Regions from separate parts of the Homo sapiens genome. Here region 2 is linked to region 1. The links come from fine-mapping of genetic effects on gene expression. A gene starts in region 1. The other region holds a variant in brackets. All regions are shown on one strand. Distances are between the middles of the regions.

Region 1 (3,017 bases):
ATAAGCTAACATCAGTTGGCTTTTTTCCCATCCTTTTTGGAAACAAGTATGTTTGAATACTTGGCTGCACTAATCTTTCAAGCACATATACTTAAGTCTCCTTAATTTTGACTGAGATGAGGAAACAAAGTTGGCTTATTTTTCTCAGTTCCTTAAAAACAGTAACTCAAGATAAACCCTTTCAAAATGCAGTACAGTACTTTTAAAACAAAAGCCATCCAAGTTGAATAAGCGATGGCAGTTTGGGGGCCTGATATGGCTGTTATTTATAAGGTGGCCATTTTTACATCCTAAGAGTAGTTCATTAGTCAATGCATTTTGAGTATATCAAATTTGATTTGATCTTATCCTAGCATACTCTGAACACATCTTGAGATCAACCCTTCTCAAGTGATTTTGGTGAGCATAGCCAAAGAGTACCCTCTGCTGGTCAGAAAAAAAATGGTGCTTTCACAATACCCAGATTTACTCCAACGATTGCATATGCATTTAGGTTTTGTGGCTCTTAAAATGCTTTTTTTTTTTTTTTTGAGATGGAATTTCGCTCTTGTTGCCCAGGCTGGAGTGCAATGGCGCGATCTCGGCTCACGGCAACCTCCGCCTCCCGGGTTCAAGCGATTCTCCTGCCTCAGCCTCCTGAGTAGCTGGAATTACAGGCGCCCGCCACCACGCCCAGCTAATTTTTTGTATTTTTAGTAGAGACGAAGTTTCACCATGTTGGCCAGGCTGGTCTCGAACTCCTGACCTTAGGTAATCCAACTGCCTCGGCCTCCCAAAGTGCTGGGATTACGGGAGTGAGCCACTGCGCTGGGCCTACTTTTTAAAGTGTATGGAAGCATTAACTTTAATGTTAACATCAGAATTTGAGAAAAAGAAGTTTAATAATTCAAAATTTCGTGTAAAATAATCAAGAACTCCACGTTTCTATCACTCACTGTAGGCTCCCGTCCCTTCCACCCCCGGGCGGGGACCCCTCCCAGCGACCCGGCCAGCTCTCAGCACTTCGGTCCCCACTGGCCTACTCGCTCCGACGGAGGGGCTCCTGCAACTGCGCTGTACCGTAAATATTTGCTGAATCGATTTGACTTTTACTTGTTCCAATTTCGCTTTTTTGTTGTTTTGTTTTTTTGTCTTTTTACGAACAAGAGGTTTAGAGAACCACATGGAAAAAAGGCAGGGCCAGGCCCGGACACCCCGCCTCCTGCCTCCCGGCCCGGCGGTGCCCGGATGCCCCGCCCGCGCCCATGGCGCAGCCACACACGACCTCGGTCCCGTACTTCGCGCGCTCTCCTGCACCGCCGCCGCCATCTCGCTCAGGAGCTCCTCCACAACCGCCGGCAACACTACGGCCATCGCGCCGCAGGACACGCCCTCCACGACCGGCGGACCGCCGCGACGCTCCAGCTGACTGCGCCTACCTGTGGAGGATCCTGACCCCCCGCCGGGGCAGGGCGAGACGGAGTGACGTCGGGGCGCGTCATCGCGCGTGCGGACGCAGGGATGTCCTGCTCAGTCGTCAGGGCCCGGCCAATCCGGAGGGCGCTCGGCGCGTGGTCGGGGGCCAGGAGCGCGTCTGGCCTGCAGTGCGCAGAGGACGCGGCGGGAGCATGTTCCGGCTCCTGAGCTGGAGCCTGGGCCGAGGCTTCCTGCGGGCCGCGGGGCGGCGGTGCCGGGGCTGCTCCGCGCGCCTGCTCCCGGGGCTGGCAGGAGGTCCGGGGCCCGAGGTGCAGGTGCCGCCATCCCGAGTCGCGCCGCACGGCCGGGGCCCAGGCCTGCTGCCGCTGCTGGCAGGTGAGGGGCGCGGGCCGGGCGGGGCCGGCCGGGCGGGGACAGGGGCGCGGGCCGGGCCCGATGACCTCAGAGCCCCTTCCCGCAGCGCTCGCCTGGTTCTCGAGGCCCGCTGCGGCAGAGGAGGAGGAGCAGCAGGGAGCCGACGGGGCCGCTGCCGAGGACGGGGCGGACGAGGCCGAGGCAGAGATCATCCAGCTGCTGAAGCGAGCCAAGGTGAGGCGGCTCCGGGCCCTGCGCCCGGCCGAGCGCGGTAGCCTTTGTGAGCGGGGTCTTGGCGTTGCTGCGCATTACTCTCTCCGCCTCGCCGAAGAGTGGATGGAGGCTCCGCGGGTAAAATTGCCGAGAATGAGGTGGGTCATCCGAGAGGGGATTGGAATCCATCCAGGCTTTTCCGACTCTAAGGCCTGCAGTAAAACCTCTGCAGTGTCAAGTGCAAATGGAGATGGCGCCCTAGGCATCACGCTTTATGCAAACGAAATATCGGGAACGTTTTGTAGTGGTTTTATCAATTAACCAGCCTATCTGAAATGACATAATTTCGCACGTATATAGCGGCCTGAAAATGGCAACTTAGTGTTGGTTATGCGGTTCGGTTCTCCTCCTGAATTCTTCCTTTTCTCCACATCCTTTTCTATTTTTTTTTCCTCCTCTTTTCCCAAGTTATCTCATCTCTTCCATTGAGCTAAATACCTACTCGATGCCAACAACGTCCAAATTTGTATTTCCATTCTGTAGTGTGCTACTGACATGCCATTTGCACTTTAGGACCATACCTACCTCTCAGATTTAACATGCCCAAAACTAAACGATCTTTAATGCCTCCTCAACATACGCTTTCGCCATCTCTTTACTACCATCAGTTTTTCAGCCTAAAAACCTCATAGTCATTCTTAAAACTTGTGGTACCTTACCATTGCCTTCCAATACACTTACAGTCCAGCAACAAGTCCTGTTGCCAACAAATGCAAAATATTTCTCAAATCTTTCCCCTTTTGTCTATCTCCCTTGCTGTCACCCTAGTGCAAACCATCATTGCCACCAACTATGCTCCAGTAGTCTTTCCTGGCCTCCTGGCCTCTTGCAATCTATTCTCCATGCAGAAACCAAAGCGACCAAAAAAAAAAAGAGTAAATTGGATTATGTCATCTCCTTGTCAGAAAGCTCTGAATGGCTACCCACTGCATTTATGATAAAATACAAACTCCTTGCCTTGGCTTGCAACACCC
Region 2 (2,500 bases), 50 kb after region 1:
TTTAATTTCAAGAATAATGAACAAATATTTTCTAACCTATTTAAATATGATATTATAAATATTTTCTTTTTGCTAAAATACACTAGCATTAGATGAGTAGGAAAAGAGACAAATGATCCTCTAAGAATGCCATCCAGACATAAAAGCCCAAAGTTCTGAGAAAAACGGCAACAACTGAAGGAAATGTTAAAGCATGAGCACCCACGCCATGAATGGTTGCTGTCACTAGGAAGCACACTTACCTCTGCTCTGCAGGCTCTGCGCCCCTCTGAGACAAGAGCAGCAAGCTGTCCTGTTTCTCATGCACAACCGGAACCTGGGGTGGGGAGATGGGCTCGTAGGGCTCCGAAGAGACGTGACTCCTCTCTGGGGATTTTCCAGGCCTACTATTGTAATATGTGAAATATTAGATTGTGTTTCAAAGGCTAACCTGGGACTTACCTAAACAGAAACTTGTTAACTCATGACTTCATTCAGGAGAAGGAGCAAAAGCTGCCAATTTCTATCAGAAAAAAAGTTGCCTCAGGTATTCACTATATACATAGTTAAAACAAACAAACAACAACAAAAAAAACCACTGTGTTACTGCCACTTGACCCATGCGCGCCCCGTGGATCCAGGAGTCACGTCATCAGACAGTGCTGCCCGGGCAGCAGCAGTGGCAGAAGCTGCGTCCTTGAGGCTCCGCATGTCCTTCAACATCAGACACCATCTCACCCTTGGCTCCTTAGTCCAGGTGAAACCTCAAGGGTTTTCCTACCTATTTTGAGTCGACTGACCAGTTCTTTCATCGTCAAGTTAAAGATAAAGGACTTCAGTACTAAACTGACACCCAAGAAGTTTTATCAGGTGAGTCAACATAGGTTCTAGTTACACTATATTATGGCAGAGGGGTTCTCTGCAATTTTATATTTTTTCTCTGGATACCATTTGGTAAGAATAATATAAGATAGACACACTGTTTAGCTCCCACCCATTTATCATTTTTTTTTTTTTTGAGACAGAGTCTGGCTTTGTCACCCAGCCTGGAGTGCAGTGGTGTGATCAGCTCACTGCAACCTCTGCCTCCCAGGTTCAAGCAATTCTCCTGCCTCAGCCTCCCGAGCAGCTGGAATTGGAATTATAGGCATGCGCCACCATACCC[C/G]GGCTAATTTTTGTATTTTTAGTAGAGACGGGGTTTCACCATGTTGGCTAGGCCTCCTGACCTCAGGTGATCCACCTGCCTGGGCCTCCAAAAGTGCTAGGATTACAGGCCTGAGCTACCGCACCTGGCCCATTTATCTTATTATTAAAATTTTTATTTTTTAGAGACAGGGTCCCGCTCGTTGCCCAGGCAGGAGTACAGGAGTGCAATCATAGCTCACTGCAGCCTCAAACTCTTGGGCTCAAGTGGTCCTCTCACTTACATCTCCCGAGTAACTGGGATTACAGGCATGCGTCACCATGCCCAGCTAATATTTTTATTATATGTTTTATTATGTCTGGTGGCCCATTTTTAATTTTTTGTAGAGACAGGGGTCTCACTATGTTGCTGACCTCAAACTCCTGGGCTCAAGCAATCCTCCCACCTCAGCCTCCAAAAGTAATGGGAATTACAAGCACCTCGCCCCACCACACCCTCAATTTTTTTTTTTTTTTAAGACAGAGTCTTGCTCTGTCACCCAGGCTGGAGTGCAGTAGCACGATCTTGGCTCACTATAACCTCCACCTCCCAGGTTGAAAGGATTCTAGTGCCTCAGCCTCCTGAATAGCTGGGATTACAGGTAGCCACCACCACACTTGGCTGATTTTTGTAGTTTTATTAGAGACGGGGATTCACCATGTTGGCCAGAATGGTCTCAAACTCCTGACCTCAAGTGATCCACCTGCCTCAGCCTCCTGAAGTGCTGGGATTACAGGCGTGAGCCACCACACCCGGCCCTGCTAAAATTTTTTGACATAGCGATTATGCATATGAAAGCCACCTGTGACTTTCAACATCTGGAATTATGACTATTAGACTAAAGCAAAATTATAATATGATTTGTTATGGCCTTTCTCAATCAGCCCATCCAGTTGTTCAAGATAGCCACTTTTTTTTTAAGTTGTTTTGCTGTTTACCTCCAAAACTCTGTAAATAATCTTAAACATGTTTTTTTTATTTATAAAACTTGAAACAGTATCTGTTAACTCTCTTCCATGAAAGATGAAGAATTTGATTTGCCTTCTCTGTTGTTGCCCATTTTATTTTTATTTTTATTTTTATTTTTGAGACAGGGTCTCCCTCTGTCACCCAGGCTAGAGTGCAGTAGTACAATCACTGCTTACTGCAGCCTCAACTTCTGCGCTCACGTGATCCTCCCACCTCAGGCTCCCAAGTAGCTGGGACTACAGGTGCATGCCACCATGCCTGGGCGATTTTATTTTTTAGTTTTTTTGTGGAGATGGGGTCTCACTACATTGCCCAGGCTGGTCTTGAACCGCTGGCCTCAAGCGATCCTCTCGCCTTGGTCTCCCAAAG

Evidence for each region. PIP is the estimated chance that this variant, and not a neighbour inherited with it, causes the effect.
Region 2: its variant is the best candidate, but not a certain one, in a credible set for the expression of TTC19 in whole blood (TOPMed, PIP 0.64).

What each region holds. Positions count from the first base shown.
Region 1 is chr17:15,998,242-16,001,258 of GRCh38, forward strand. It overlaps TTC19 (tetratricopeptide repeat domain 19), which reads left to right and starts at 1,583. Exons shown (of 10, transcript NM_017775.4): 1 at 1,583-1,791; 2 at 1,877-2,004. The coding sequence starts at 1,608. ZSWIM7 (zinc finger SWIM-type containing 7) reads right to left here and starts at 1,463. Exons shown (of 5, transcript NM_001042697.2): 1 at 1,278-1,463. The coding sequence starts at 1,353. RefSeq lists silencers at 1,037-1,196, 1,547-1,936 and an enhancer at 1,337-1,426.
Region 2 is chr17:16,048,603-16,051,102 of GRCh38, forward strand. NCOR1 (nuclear receptor corepressor 1) reads right to left here. Exons shown (of 46, transcript NM_006311.4): 41 at 243-386. Among named protein-coding and RNA genes, the nearest start is that of TTC19, 50 kb to the left of the region's middle. The variant C/G (reference allele first, on the strand shown) is at 1,145.